Homo sapiens: one gene and its partner. The protein of the gene in region 1 interacts with the protein of each later gene in a biochemical or structural test. Each region holds a gene or a part of one and is shown on either strand. Other genes may lie near its edges.

What was found.
Region 2: the proteins of TOR1AIP2 (region 1) and TOR1A form a complex in vitro, tested with the Homo sapiens proteins (4 studies listed by BioGRID and IntAct, with this or other methods).

What each region holds. Positions count from the first base shown.
Region 1 is NC_000001.11:179,874,796-179,882,659, forward strand, and holds the start of TOR1AIP2 (torsin-1A-interacting protein 2), read right to left. Parts: upstream 3,009-7,864; 5' UTR 2,898-3,008; intron 2,579-2,897; 5' UTR 2,444-2,578; intron 1-2,443. Other genes in the region: uncharacterized LOC139427322, read left to right, coding at 7,521-7,598; TOR1AIP1 (torsin-1A-interacting protein 1), read left to right, coding at 7,708-7,864. UniProt on the Homo sapiens protein: Required for endoplasmic reticulum integrity. Regulates the distribution of TOR1A between the endoplasmic reticulum and the nuclear envelope as well as induces TOR1A, TOR1B and TOR3A ATPase activity.
Region 2 is NC_000009.12:129,821,120-129,828,964, reverse strand, and holds the start of TOR1A (torsin-1A precursor), read left to right. Parts: upstream 1-4,828; 5' UTR 4,829-4,879; coding exon 4,880-5,057; intron 5,058-6,118; coding exon 6,119-6,384; intron 6,385-7,845. Other genes in the region: splicing factor C9orf78, read left to right, coding at 713-804. UniProt on the Homo sapiens protein: Protein with chaperone functions important for the control of protein folding, processing, stability and localization as well as for the reduction of misfolded protein aggregates.

The DNA of each region.
Region 1 (7,864 bases):
TTACTTTTATACAAAGAAAGTTATAAGTCAGCCTCCAGGATCAAGTCCAATCTACAAATATGACCTAACATCCATAAAGCAAATCTACAAATATAGAACCCAATATAGCACTATCCTCTAAGGTCAGACTGCCTAGACCTGAATGACTGCTCCAGCTTCTGACTTGGTGTTTCTCTCTCTCTCTCTATGCCCTTGGTTTTCTTTGTTTTTTGTTTTGTTTTTGAGATGGAGTCTCGCTCTGTCGCCCAGGCTGGAGTGCAATGGCGCGTACTCAGCTCACTGTAACCTCCGCCTCCCAGGTTCAAATGATTCTCCTGCCTCAAGCCTCCCGAGAAGCTGGGATTACAGGTGCCCGCCACCACGCCCAGCTAATTTCTTTGTATTTTTAGTAGGGACAGGGTTTCACCATGTTGGCCAGGTTGGTCTCAAACTCCTGACCTCAAGTGATCCACCCACCTTGGCCTCCCAAAGTGCTGGGACTATAGGCGTGAGCCACTGCACCCAGCCCCTGGCTAATTTTTTCCTTGGTTTTCTTAATTACAAAATGGAATAATAGTACTTAGATGAAAGAGGCAGTGTGAAGATCAAATGAGATAATGTGCAATACTGGCAACCACAGGGGCACAAAAGAAGTCCTCAAAAACCGTAAATAATTATTATTTGAACTATTAAAGGCAAAACCAGACAGCTTCATTTATATAATTAAAACCCCAGAAGACACCAATGTTTCAAAATTTGACTTTTTCCAAAAATGTCATTACATTTACATGATAGATACTCATGGTCAAGGGCTGAAGGAAAATCTCTAAAAATCAAACAATTTGATTTGTTGAGGTAGTGGAGTTATAGGTGAATTTTCTTCCCAGAAATTTCGATTACCAAAATTATGTGCACAGTTCATACCAGAGCCATGGCACCAAAAAAAAAAAAATCATGTGCCAGCTCCTTTAAATATTAGTAAAGAGGAAAACAGCCCACACAGTAACAAAATAGGAATTCAAACCCAGCTATGACTCCAGTCTATGCTCATTACCAATGTTAGGGACACGCTTCCTTATTCCCAAGTGCTTGATTTCTGTGCAAAATTTATGGTAATATATGATCGCCCTATGAATTCCTTCTTGTAGGACACAGTTTAATCCAGTAGTTCATATGATGTAGAAATATTAATGAAATTTTAACACAATCAAAATTCTAAATGGTAAATAAAACAGCCAATTCTTCATTCTTTAAATTTTTTTGGAAGTTGTCGAATCTCCAAGTTTATGGGCCTTCACAGTTGACTTAGTGAACAACCTCAAAGTGATAAAGCAGACAAGGCTTTTTGAAGCAAACATTCCTTCAGGAAATTCAAGTGGCACTTCAAAGAAGTGTGGACTTTCCTGGAATAGAATTTTGACTTCTGTGTTCCATGGAAATGAATGGAATACAGAAATTACTTCTTAGGCAAAAATAAGTTATATACAAGATACAATACATTATTAAAACACCCAATAATCCTCAAATAATTAGCTACATTCTGAAGTTAATTTATTTATAAATTATTGAAGCTCTCAAGCTAGCATTACCTCTACATTAGGAAAGAAACTAGATAAAATAGTTCTTAAATGAGTCACGCAAGGTTGCGTAACAAACCAGCAGAAAAACAGGTAATCAAGTTGTGGACTGCACGTTCAGCATAATAAACATTACTGAAGACAGGCACTCAGTTTTCATAACAAATGTTAGTTTTTCAAACTATTCTAATCCACACAAAGTCTTCCAAAAACATCTGTAGTTACTCTACCATGAAGTTCCTTTTTTTATTAAATGTTTCCACTGGCCTTTTATATCCTCATCTTGTGCTCAAAAAAAAAAGCTCAAAAAACATGGATAACTGCCACAGCTTAAAACAAAGAAAGGATCTCTCATACAGATCCAAAATAAAATGTGTTAAAACCTAAAGACAGGTAAAACAAAGCCAGTATGTTTAATCTATGTAACTCATTTCTGGATCTGTGTAACAGTATAAAGTCTGATAATTAAGCATTACTCATAAAGTAGAGAGTACTATGAAATTTGTTAAAAGAAGGAAAAGGCACAAACTTTTTCATCAGGTATTAAATACAATTGGGAGAATGGTACATATATAATATGTAAGCAAAATGGTAGGAGGTCTTACTAAAACTTCAACTTTGCCCTTTTTAGCACCAATTTTTTTTTTTTTTAAGTATTATCTTTTCAGGATTAAGATTATGAATGTCGAGAACCTAGGCATGTTGGGAATGGAGTAATCGCCGCCTACACTAGTAGGCAAATTTCCCACTCACATTTCGAACCCTAAAATAATTCGGCTTCTCACCTTAAAGTCTAAACCCAAAAATTTACTCACATCTTAACCCATTTAATATTTATAAGATTCAGTTTCTTTTTATCCCAAAACAAAAATATACCCCCAACCTACCTCGTTTACTGTTTGAGTGAGGCCAGGCGTGGTGGCTCACGCCTGTAATCCCAGCACTTTGGGAGGCTGAGGTGGGAGAATCGCTTGAAGCCAGGAGTTCGAGACCAACCTGGGCAATACAGTGAGACCCTGTCGCTATAAAAATAAAAAATAAAGTAATTAGTAGGGCATGGTGGTGCGGGCCTGTAGTTCCAGCTACTTGGGAGGCTGAGGCGGGAGGATCCCTTGAGCCCAGAAGTATGAGGCTGTGGTGAGCTATGATCACGCCACTGTACTCTAGCCTCGGTGACAGGGCAAGTACCTGTCTCAAAAACAATAAAAATAAAAATACCATTTGTGCGGTACGAAGGTGGGGGTGGGGAGGGACCGTTTCTGAAAGTCCTTTTCAAAAATTCAAGATATCAGTTTCAATACTAAAACATGGAAAAGCTGCATAGTCATTTTGTTTACTTACAAATTCTGGCGAAGTTTTAAATCGTAAAACTGTTAGTATCAGGAGAGCCCTTCGAGTATTCTCTCCGCTCCACACCGCTCGGCTGCACCCAGCGGCCGCCGCGGCCCGAATGTCGTCCAGGGTCCCCGCCCATATGACAAACACTTTCCGCCGGAAGGCGCCCGTGGAATCCTGGGACTAGTAGTCTCCGTGCCCTGCCTTCTGCCTTCTCCATCCTTCACCCTCTACTGCCAGGTCGTCTGACCCAGCGACAGGCGCGGTAAATGCGCGACCAAACCGCAGAGGTCCCATGCAATCTCATGCTGACAGGATTACAGGCATCTCTGTAAGACGTCGACCACCCTGACCTGAAATTCATAGACTGAAGAAACTCATAGGACCAACACAGTGAGCAGCAGTACCAAATGATAATGGCAAGCACCATGTCCTGGAACACACCCTCTGTGCCATTAAGAGGAGCATGTAATCCAATGAGTTGCCTAATCTAAACCTCAGTTTGCTCGTGTGTCAAATGGGGACAACGTTACTTACCTCATAAGTTTGTTATTAGTAGATTAGATGACGTATGCAGCATTTCTGTTAAATGACAGTAGTGACAAAAAATAGCTGTTTTGATCTACTAATTTTATAAATGTGAAAATTAAGAGATGGCGAGCAATTTACCCAAGAACATACAATTTGTTGGGGGAAAAATGAAGTAAGTCTAAAATTCCTGTTCTTGACCTACAGCAATTCAGGACAAATCTAACCAAATTTCAAGAAGAAATCTATTCATGTAAAACTCCCTTCCCCTTTCCTCTTTTTTTTCCCATAACAGTCCTGACCAACACACTATTTTACTTATTTTGATTTTTGCCCGACTCCTCCCATAGAATATAATCTCCAAGAAGGCAGGAAACATTTTTTGTCTTTTAGTCTATTTTGTTCACTGCTGTATCCCCAGCACAGAGAACAGGGACTGCCTACTACACAGTAGCTCAAGTATTTATTGAATTAATAATTCCTCATTTAATGTGATTTTTGGTGCCTTCACTTCTCAATCACCCTCTCTTGGCAGAAGTGACAGGATTTGGTAACACTCTTGGATGGTGTTTAATAATTAACTGCAAGTCCTAATTCAACAAAAAGAATACTATATTCCATTCACTTTATTGTGTTTAATTAATTTCAGTATAACATTTCCAGGAATTTTCATTTGTATTGTCATTAAAATATTTTTCTATCATTTGTAAGACTGGGGAATAAATGGAGCCAGCTACTATGTCTTTAATTAACTTCCTCCTGTTTAATATTTTAATCATCTTTTCCTTATTAAAATTGTTTGCCTACTTCATTTGTACTACTAAGTCACAACGGATAGATTTATCTCTTTAAATAAATGAACTTCTGCTTACCCTAAAGCAAAAAGTTCCTGTACAAAAAATTTATTGTTCTAAAATGTTTCATTTAAAATAATTATTTTGGCCAGGCGTGGTGGCTCACACCTGTAATCCCAGCACTTTGGAAGGCCAAGGCGGATGGATCACCTGAGGTCAGGAGTTCAAGACCAGCCTTGCCAACATGGCAAAATCCATGTCTACTAAAAATACAAAAATTAGCTGGGCATGGTGGCAGGCACCTGTAATCCCAGCTACTCGGGAGGCTGAGGCAGGAGGATCACTTGAACCTGGAGTTGGGGGAGGCTGCAGTAAGCCGAGATTGCACCACTGCACTCCAGCCTAGGCGAAAGAGCGAGACTCCGTCTCTAAATAAATAAATTAATTAAAAATGAAATAAAATAACTGATTTAGGAACCCAGTCTCAAGAGCACAGGATTTCCAGACCTAGCCCTAATAGTTAAGTGTGTGAATTAATGCCATTTAATCTGAATTGTAATTTTTCGTGTTTCTGTCGTTCCCAATAAATGACAAATTCCCTAAAGATAGTCTTCCTCATTGCTGGCACACGTTTGATAAGTAAATGAATTATTAAGTGTATTCTTTGTTTTAATCATTTCTTTTCTTACCGGTCTTCTTTTTTGGGTCACTGAATTCCTCCAGATTTCTCAAATTCCCAAAGTAACTTTAATATCCAGAGCTGAGGCATCCTTTTTTAGTGGCCCAGCGCATCCCTTATAATATTGGCTATGACTCTACTGTCACTGTAATGTCACCTCTTTTCAGCCACTCTTATAGTCTGGATAATAGCTACAGCAGAGTATCTAGTTTCATAACAGTTTAGCTTTGCCTCAGAGCTAGTGATGAAAGTTTCGTATCTGTAAGGTTTCTAGGTGAAGGAGGCAGTCACAGTAGAGGTAGGTTTCCTTATGCTTACAACCTAGATGAGAGGGAAAATCCGATGCATATATATATGTGTGTGTGTGTGTGTGTGTGTGTGTGTGTGTTAGCATTAAAGTTACCATACCTCTAATTTTACAGTAAGTGTCTCATTAATTTAGTTGAAAGGCCATTCCTAAGCCTTTACAAGCAGTTTTAATTACAAAATATGCATATTCTGATTATTCAATAATATGCAGAACCTCTCCTCTGATTGTTCAATATGTAGAATCTCTTGTCTCTTTTTTAATTTGTCCCTCAAACCTAAGTTTTACAAGCCTGTATCCAAGTTTTATAAGCTAGTATCCCAGTTTCTACATAGTCATCTGTCTTGGTAAAATGTTTCAAGGAGACTTTAATGTTCATAATATGAACTCAATATATTACTATAAAATTTATATTTAATAATTAAATCTATTAAGGAACTTATACTATTGTGTTACTAATGAGTAATGTAATAGCCACTTTAAAGAGAAAGCCCTGCTTAAAACATAAATAAAAGCCACGTATTACCATATCAATACTTTTGAGCATTTTGTTGGAAGAGTAAATCTAGCTAATTTCCGAAATATACCATCTAATCCAGACTGACAAGGAAGAGTATCCTTTTCATTTTTCCTTAAAAGACAAGAAGAAAGAAGAAAGAGAGACAGAAAAGAAAGAAAGAAGTCTCTCTTTTGTTACTGCAGTTTTTAAAAGCTATATTGTACATAAAGCTACAGTAAACTAAGCTCCTAACAGGCCAAACCTTATCTCACTCTAAAACTGTAATTCCTCCTGCCTGTGGCCAAATTTATGGACAATATTAGTAAAAACATAGTACACAGTCGGGCAGGGTGGCTCACGCCTGTAATCCCAGCACTTTGGGAGGCCGAGAGGCGGATCACGAGGTCAGGAGATCGAGACCATCCTGGCTAACACGGTGAAACCCTGTCTCTACTAAAAATACAAAAAAATTAGCCGGGCGTGGCGGCATGCGCCTGTAGTCCCAGCTGCTGGGGAGGCTGAAGCAGGAGAATGGCGTGAATCCGGGAGGCAGAGGTTGCAGTGAGCCGAGATCGCGCCACTGGACTCCAGCCTGGGTGACAGAGCAAGACTCCGTCTCAAAAAAAATAAAATAAAAATAAAAATAAAATAAAAACATAGTACACATTACGACTTAAGTAGTTGAAATTTGTGCCAAGTTTGAGCAACAAATGAGTTGCTCAAAAACATTTTAAGGTGATTACTTGGAAGAATAAACAAACACCTTCAAACTTTTCAGAATCGCTCATTGTAACTGGTATCCAAATTACAATTTTTTAAATCTATTCACTCCAATCATACAAAGCCCTACAAGCAGTTGTATATTTGAAGGCAATTTAAGCTTTCTTTCAATAATTATTCAGACTTTACACGAACTTAATCGACCTTCTCTGAATGTGTCTAAATTTGGTTAGGTATTTGCAGATTAGCCACATCTGTAAACATTTGTATAAGGAGGTGAAACAAATAGATTTTACCATGCTTTCTTATTCCATAAAGTCCATAAAGCATTCTAAATCAAATGTAGAGTATCACGTCACATCCAGAATAAAAGTAAAAATAATGGATCACAACTTAAAATTACAGTGCTGTCTTTAATTAAAAAACTTGTTCATTTCTCACTGTGCACAATGTAGCACTAACATGGTCTTCCGAACACTGCTGCTTGGTATAAAACCGAGAAATATTAAAGACCAGGAATAAGGTTATGTGTCCTATGGGTACATTTCGGAAAAGAAAATACATCCAACGAGTATGACTCTAGATAGGATTTTGTACACCCTCAACAAGTGACAAAATTCAAAACTAGGTAACCGCCCTCATAAGGTACTTGAAACTAAAATTTTTGCCACGAAAACATGGCATGTGCAAAAGTTCTCTCTCTGGCCATCACTCCTGCTAAGGACACTGGGAAGGACATGGTCAACGTAGCAGTCGATCAAAAAGATTCCAGGGAAACTGCGCAACAGCCTGGGGCCGAGAAGCGAAACTTGGGTCTTCTCCACCCTCGTCGCACTCCTTTTCCCCGAGACTTGGTACTGGGAGATAGGACGGGAGTCTCCTACACGCAGTCAACACTTGCCACGAGCGGCTAGACTTAGGACAGGCAAGTTGCCCTGCCATCCTTCTATCGCCCCCACCCCTCCTTTACTTAAGGGCGATGGCAGAGACGTCCTCCTCCCCCTTCTCCTCCTCTTTGGTGCCTCCAGCCAGGAGGCGGGAGCGATCCACAGCAGCTGACCCAGCTCAGGCACTGCCTCTCTCACAGCCCTCAAGACACACCATGGGCCCAGAGGCAGGTTTGCTACACAGCAGCGACGACGCAGGCGGCGGCCCCAGCGACTCGCAACTGCCTCCCTGACCACAGCGGCCACCGCCCAACACCCCCGAGAAGCCATCGCCACCACCGGCAGGAGAACCTAGGGTCCATAAAGCCATCTTCGCGATCGACTAAAGCTACGTCAACAACTATGGCGGGCGACGGGCGGCGGGCAGAGGCGGTGCGGGAAGGATGGGGTGTGTACGTCACCCCCAGGGCCCCCATCCGAGAGGGAAGGGGCCGGCTCGCCCCTCAAAATGGCGGCAGCAGCGATGCGCCTGCGTACAGAACTCCTCCGTCGCGCCAGG
Region 2 (7,845 bases), on another chromosome or scaffold:
TCACGCACAGTAGAGACTCAAGAAGTTAGAAAATTTCAGTAAGGACAAATAAAAGCTACTCATAAGGTTAGCTGGGTGCAGTGCCTCACACTTGTAGTCTCAGCTGCTGGGGAAGCTGGGACAGGAGGATTGCTTGAGACTAAGAGTTCAAGGCTGCAGTGAGCTATGATTGGACCACTGCACTCTAGCCTGCGTGACAGAGTGAGACCACATCTTTTTTTTAAAGAAAAGAAAAAGGTATTGGCCATGCTCGGTGGCCCATGCCTGTAATCCCAGCACTTTGGGAGGCAGAGGCAGGCAGATCACCTAAGGTCAGGAGTTCAAGACGAGCCTGGCCAACATGGTGAACCCCGTCTCTACTAAAAATACAAAAATTAGCCAGGTGAGGTGGCAGGTGCCTGTAATCCCAGCTACTCAGGAGGCTGAGGCAGGAGAATCACTTGAACTCGGGAGTTGGAGGTTGCAGTGAGCTGAGATCATGCCATTACACTCTAGCCTGGGCAACAGGGTGAGACTCCATCTCAAAAAAAAGAAAAGAAAAGAAAAAAAAAAAGACAAATACGTATCTACTGAGGCCCTACTGTGTTCACTGGGTTAGGCGCTGGGGCTCCTGTGGGGAAGGAAACAGGCAGTTGTCTTTGCCTGCATGGAGTAAAGTCTAGCAGTGGGTTCCAGCATGGCAAACCACCTTTCCTGTTCTTTTCCTTCTCAGGGTCCCCTCCTAACCGCAAGCGTCCTGCTAACGAGAAGGCAACTGATGACTATCATTATGAGAAGTTCAAGAAAATGAATAGGCGGTACTGAGTTGTGCAGAGTGGGATGTAAATATCGCCTTCCTCTCCCTATATCCCTCCCATGAAAAATGGCTTCCTGGCCGGGCGTGGTGGCTCCTGCCTGTAATCCCAGCACTTTGGGAGGCCGAGGTGGGCGGATCACCTGAGGTCGGGAGTTTGAGACCAGCCTGACCAACATGGAGAAACCCAGTCTCTACTGAAAATACAGAAAAGTTAGCCAGGCGTGGTGGCACATGCCTGTAATCCCAGCTGCTCAGGAGGCTGAGGCAGGAGAATTGCTTGAACCCAAGAGGCGGAGGTTGTGGTGAGCCGAGATTGCACCTTTGTACTCCAGCCTGGGCAACGAGCAAAAAACTCTGTCTCAAAAAAAAAAAAAAAAAAAAAAAAGAAAAAGAAAAATGGCTTCCAGGACAGAGCATGCTCATTTGCTGGCGGACAGTTCCAGAAACAGACCCTGTTAGTCCTTCTACTTACCTGCTGGATTTTTCAAGCACTAAATTTATAACTTTTTGAAACAAAATAATGTGTAATTTTCCATTTGGGGGCAAACTCTATTCTTGTGAGCATTATTAAATCTTGTTTGTAAATATATTGTCTTTCTCTTAATATTTGCTCTGGGTCAGGAAGAAGCTGTTCACGGTGTGATAATACTCTTTAGATTGTGCTTTCATTATTATAGATGCATCATGTCTTCTGCTTTCACGTGTCTGGGATGGGGTCAGAAATGCATCCTCCAGCTGACAGAAAAATCCAGGATGAGATCAGAAGGATACTGGTGTTTTCTGACTTTTACAAAATTACTTGTTTGTTTTCATTAAAAAAAAAGCATAAACTATGTTTCTTATTACTATTAGAATTATTAAATTTCAAAATGAATCCAACCTTATTGTTTGTATTATGTTTCTTATACCAGCATCAGGTAATGTTTTTAAAGCCCATGGTTTGGGTAGCCTAAATGTAAAACTGAATTACTGAGATGGATTTTCTCATTTATTTCAAACAGTGAGCTATGATTGGACCACTGCAGCATAGACATGCTGCAACCTGCTGTCAAGTACCTTCTTACCTGTGCCCTCATTTTTCCTGAGGCATCCACAGGGGTCCAAAAGAGGAAAGAGCAGATTGGCTGACTTCTGGGTGGATTTAGAGCAGGTATTGTGGTTACAGTGGTTTGGCCCAGGAGTCAGATCTGAGCCCACCTCGCAGCTTACTACTTGTGTCCTTGGACAGATCCTTTTCACTCTTAGCCTCAGTTTTCTCATCTGTAAAATGGAGATTTTTTTTTTTCCTCCACTTGAATATGGTCAGTGAAGGCAGGAACCATGTGTGCCTAATTTTTAAATTTGAATCCCCAGGGCATAGCCCATAATCTGACAGATAGGCAGTCCTCAAAACTATGAATGATCCCTATAGTGTTTGGCTTGTAACAGGTGCACAAAAGTATTTTAAATCCAATACGAAAAAGTCGAAACTTAAAAAATATTTTCAGGATATTTCAACAAACATTTACAGGTCCCAGCGATGTGCAGGGGTAACCCAAGATGAATACTAAAGGCCTAGCACATCTGGCACACAGCAACGCAACACGTGTTTATGGGATGAACAGGCAAATAAGTGGATGGTCAACAGTTCTCACTTGCCAGAGTTCCCTTTGCTAGAAAATGAGTAATCTTTTATCCAGCTTAAAAGTGGCTGCCAGATGGAGGGAGCTGGTTCTCTCACTGTTGGGGTGGGAATTCACAGATAAACAAGGGGAGGAGGCTCCAATGATCTGTGTAATGGATTAGAGTTGGAGATGTCAGCACGAGCTCATGTTTAGCTTAATATAGGTACAGATGTTTACCTATAAAAATATTTATAGATATGTGTGTGTTTAACAGTATATACACACATTTTTTTCTGTCAGCTGAGACTGAAAGAAATGACATCTCAATAGCAAGAAGCACACCTAGCACCCAGACCTTGGTTTCTCTTTTTTTTTTTTTTTTTTTTTTTTGATACGAAGTCTCGCTCTGTCACCCAGGCTGGAGTGCAGTGGTGCGATCTCGGCTCACTGCAACCTCCACCTCCCAAGTTCAAGGAATTCTCCTGTTTCAGCCTCCCATGTAGCTGAGACTACAGGCACACGCAACCATGCCTAGCTAATTTTTTTGTATTTTCAGTAGAGATGGGGTTTCACCATATTGGTCAGGCTGGTCCCAAACTCCTGACCTCAGGTGATGCACCTGCCTCAGCCTCCCAAAATGCTGGATTACAGGCATGAGCCACCATGCCCAGCCAGTTTCTAATGCCATTTTACAATGAAAGGAATCAGGGTTCCTCGTAGAAAATAGGATTCTAGGACTGGGGCAGGAAATACAAGATGAGCCCGGAGTATCCTGTAGTGTCAGAAAGGAAAGAGGCACTCAAACCCAAATAAGCTGGTATATACACTGGGTGTATGTCAAAGGAGCACAAGGAACCACTCAAATTCCCAGTGGCCAAAATGAGAACAATTTGAAAAAAAAATTAGTACTGTAGTATAACAAAGGATAAAATAACAATGGTCCACACTGATATAAATGATTGAATACATGGGGGAGAAGAAACAAATCTCCCATGCAGAATTCCAAATAATTTCTGTAGATACTCTGCCCCCAAGGAGGTGGAGCAAAATCCCCGACTCCTTACGTGTGGGCTGTGCATGGGGACGTCCTTCCAAAGAGTACAGTAGAGAAAAGAGGGGTGGGGGGACCTGACAAACACTACTTCAGTCAAGTGATCAAGTCAGCACCAACAGTGGTAAGTAACGTTGAACAGTAAGAACCCTTCCTTGGTAGGATGTGATGAGCATAGCACTTTACCTCTGTGATCTTCCTTCCAAAACGCCATAACGCTTGTCTAATCCTGAGAAAAACATCAAATCCCAATAGAGGGCCAGCCCACCAAAGATTTGGCCAGTACTCCTCAAAACTATCAAGGTCATCAAAAATAAAAAGCTGAGGCCAGGCGCGGTGGCTCACGCCTGTAATCCCAGCACTTTGGGAGGCTGAGACGGGCAGATCATGAGGTCAGATCAAGACCATCCTGGCCAACATGGTGAAACCCCGTCTCTACCAAAAATACAAAAATTAGCCGGGCATGGTGGTGTGTGCCTGTAATCCCAGCTGCTCAGGAGGCTGAGACAGGAGAATCGCTTGAACCTGGGAGGCAGAGGTTGCAGTGAGCTGAGATCATGCCACTGCACTCCAGCTAAAATAAAAATAAAAGGCTGAGACACTGTCATTAACAGTAGTCTAAGACATGACAACGAAATATAATGTGGTATCCTGAATGGAAACCTGCAGCAGAAAAAGGCATTAAGTAAAAGGAAGGAAATCTGAATAAACTACACTTTAGTTAATATGACAACAGTGCATCGTTAATTTTAACAAATGTAGCACACTAATAATGTAAGATTTTAGTAATAGGGGAAATTGCAGGGATGGGTGGCACATGGGAACTCTCTACTATCTTCTCAATTTTTCTGTAAATCTGTTCTAAAAAATAACGTCCGTTATTATTATTATTATTATTATTATTATTTGCGGGGAGGGGACACAGTCTTGCTCTGTCTCCCAGGCTGGAGTGCAGTGGTGAGATCTCGGCTCACTGCAATCTCCGCCTCCTGGGTTCAAGCGATTCTCATGTGTCAGCCTCCCCAGTAGCTAGGGCTACAGGTGCCTACCACCACACCCGGCTAATTTTATATTTTTAGTAGAGACGTGGTTTCACCATGTTGGTCAGGCTGGTCTCGAACTCCTGACCTCAGGTGATCCGCCCGCCTCAGCCTCCCAAAGGGCTGGGATTACAGGCAGGAGCCACCATGCCTGGCAAAAATAACGTCCATAAACAAAAACACGTGGCCAACAGGGGCGGAGCAGAACCGAGTTTCCGGAAGCAAAACAGGGCTTTGTACCGAACAAAGATGGCGGCCGCCGGCGTCGGGAGGAGGGCTGCCCTGAAGAAAGATGGCCTCCGCGAGAGGAGGAACCGGAAGCGTGGGTCTGGCGGCTGCACCGGTTCGCGGTCGGCGCGAGAACAAGCAGGGTGGCGCGGGTCCGGGCATGAAGCTGGGCCGGGCCGTGCTGGGCCTGCTGCTGCTGGCGCCGTCCGTGGTGCAGGCGGTGGAGCCCATCAGCCTGGGACTGGCCCTGGCCGGCGTCCTCACCGGCTACATCTACCCGCGTCTCTACTGCCTCTTCGCCGAGTGCTGCGGGCAGAAGCGGAGCCTTAGCCGGGAGGGTAGGCTGGGGCGGGGGCTGGAGGCTGGGGCTGGGGCTGGGGCTGGGCGATGGCACTAGGGCTGAACTAGGACCAGGGCATGGAGAATGGAGGATGGAGGCCGGGGGATGGCACCAGGGCCGGGCTAGGACTAGGGCTGGAGCGGGGCCTGGGGGCTGGGGCTGGGCGATGGCACTAGGGCCGGGTTGGGGCTGGGGCTGGGGCTGGGGGATGGAGCGGGGCCCGGGGGCTGGGGGTGGGGCTGGGGGATCGCACTAGGGCTGGGTTAAGACCAGGGCGGTTGGCTGGGGCTAGGGGATTGAGGATGGTGGATGGAGGCTGGGGGATGGCAGTAGGGCCGGGCTAGGACTGGGGCTGGAGCGGAGTTTGGGGGCTGGGGCTCAGGAGCGGGGGCTGGGGCTGGGGCTGGGGCTGGGGGATGGCACTAGGGCCAGGCCGGGGTAGGGGTCACATCCCAGGAGGGCCGGGCCTGGGCAGAGCTGAGTCCGCGGGGGCCGGACCCCGGAAGCCAAGCGGCCGGCCTGCAGGATGAGGCCTGGCTCCTCGGCCATGACCACAGACGTGCCAGACTTAAGTCGGAGACCTGAGGAGCCAGGCTGCAGGTTGGCCTACTTTGCGCTAAGCTGGGGGTGGACCAGTGGTAACCTCCCTCCGAAGTGGGTTCTGCCTCCTTTCTAGCCTAGCGGGAGACAGGAAGGATGGTGAGGACTCTTCCGCAGCCGACCAGGAGGGACCAAACTGTTTCCTTTCCCGGCTCTGCCTTGGGGTGGGAGGAGCAGCACAGGGGTTAGGGGTGCAAACTGGTGGCAGTGGCAGTGGCACCAAGGGGCTTTTCGGGAAGGAGTCGGGCCAGGGCTTTAGAATAGGCAGGACCAGCAAAGGGAGGGCTCCCTGGACCGCCGTCCCCTCTGGGCCAGGAGCTTACAGACCGCAGTACTTGAGGTTTCGCAAGGTGCTTGGAGGGCGTCTAGACGGCTTTGCTGGCTTTCTTATGGGCTGTAAATGTGGCTACATTTTGCCGCTGTTTCTTCCCCACTCCTGATTGGCTTTGTCTTTCCCAGCACTGCAGAAGGATCTGGACGACAACCTCTTTGGACAGCATCTTGCAAAGAAAATCATCTTAAATGCCGTGTTTGGTTTCATAAACAACCCAAAGCCCAAGAAACCTCTCACGCTCTCCCTGCACGGGTGGACAGGCACCGGCAAAAATTTCGTCAGCAAGATCATCGCAGAGAATATTTACGAGGGTGGTCTGAACAGTGACTATGTCCACCTGTTTGTGGCCACATTGCACTTTCCACATGCTTCAAACATCACCTTGTACAAGGCAAGGATGGAAGTTTGGAATCCCTTCCTGGATGTCATCGGGTTTGGGGTCTCTTTGTTGTGGGATGAGATTTGGGAGTTCTATGTTGAAATGAGTGAGCCCGGAAAACGGTTCATGTCTCAGTTCCCCTTGGAAAGGTGTAGAAGTTAAGAGTTTGAGATGCGTGGAGCAGTTAATACCATCAAAGCTTTGTGGTGGGTTCTGAAAATCGGTCCAGTGAGTATGTAGGGTCATGGGATTTTAGAGGTGGACATGATCAAATCCATCTTAGAGATCAACACATCTCACTCATTTTTTTATTTTTTTCTTTATTTTGAGACGGAGTTTCACTCTTCTTACCCGGGCTGGAGTGCAATGGCATGATCTCAGCTCACTGCAACCTCTGCCTCCCGGTTGAAGCAATTATCCTGCCTCAGCCTCCCGGGTAGCTGGGATTACAGGGTCCTGCCACCATGCCCAGCTAATTTTTGTATTTTTAGTAGAGATGGGGTTTTGCCAACTTGGCCAGGCTGGTCTCGAACTCCTGATCTCAGGTGATGTGCCTGCCTCAGCTTCCCGAAGTGCTGGGATTACAGGCGTGAGCCACCATGCCTGGCCACATCTCACTCATTTTGTGAAAGAGGAAACATGTAGAGTCCTAAGTTTGTTGAACCTACTGTTGTAAACTGCCTTTTTTTTTTTTTCTTTGAGTCAGGGTCTCACTCTGTTGTCCAGGCTGGAGTGCAGTGACGCCATCTCAGCTCACTACAGCCTCCACCTTCCCGGTTCAAGCGATTCTCCTGCCTCAGCCTCCCAAGTAGCTGTGACTACAGGCATGTGCCACCACAGCCGGCTAATTTTTGTATTTCTAGTAGAGATGGGGTTTCCTCACATTGGCCAGGCTGGTCTCGAACTCCTGACCTCAAGTGATCTGCCTACCTCAGCCTCCCAGAGTGCTAGGATTACAGGCGTGAGCCACCTTGCCCAGCCGCAAACAGCTTTTATGGTTGAACTCACTGATGAGCAGCTTGGGCTTTGGCAGCAGACACATCTGGATTTGAGTCCTAACACTCTCCCAGCTCCGTAGTCTTAGGAAAGTTGCCTGACCTGAGACTCAGATTCTGACTTACAAAGTGTTGCTTGTAACAATCCAGGGAGCTCTGTCTGTCAAGTGCATAACATGTACCTGGTGCATGTTACAAATAAATGTTAACTGTTGCCTTTTAGATCCTTGTAGCAGACCTGCAAGATGGGCAAAACAGTCAATTATTTATTTATTTATTTTTGAGACTGAGTTTCATTCTTGTCACCCAGGCTGGAGTGCAGTAGCACCATCTGGATCTTGATCTCGGCTCACCGCAAACTCTGCCTCCCGGATTCAAGTGATTCTGCTGCCTCAGCCTCCCAAGTAGCTGGTATTACAGGCACCTGCCACCACACCCAGCTAATTTTTGTATTTTTAATAGAGACAGGGTTTCACCT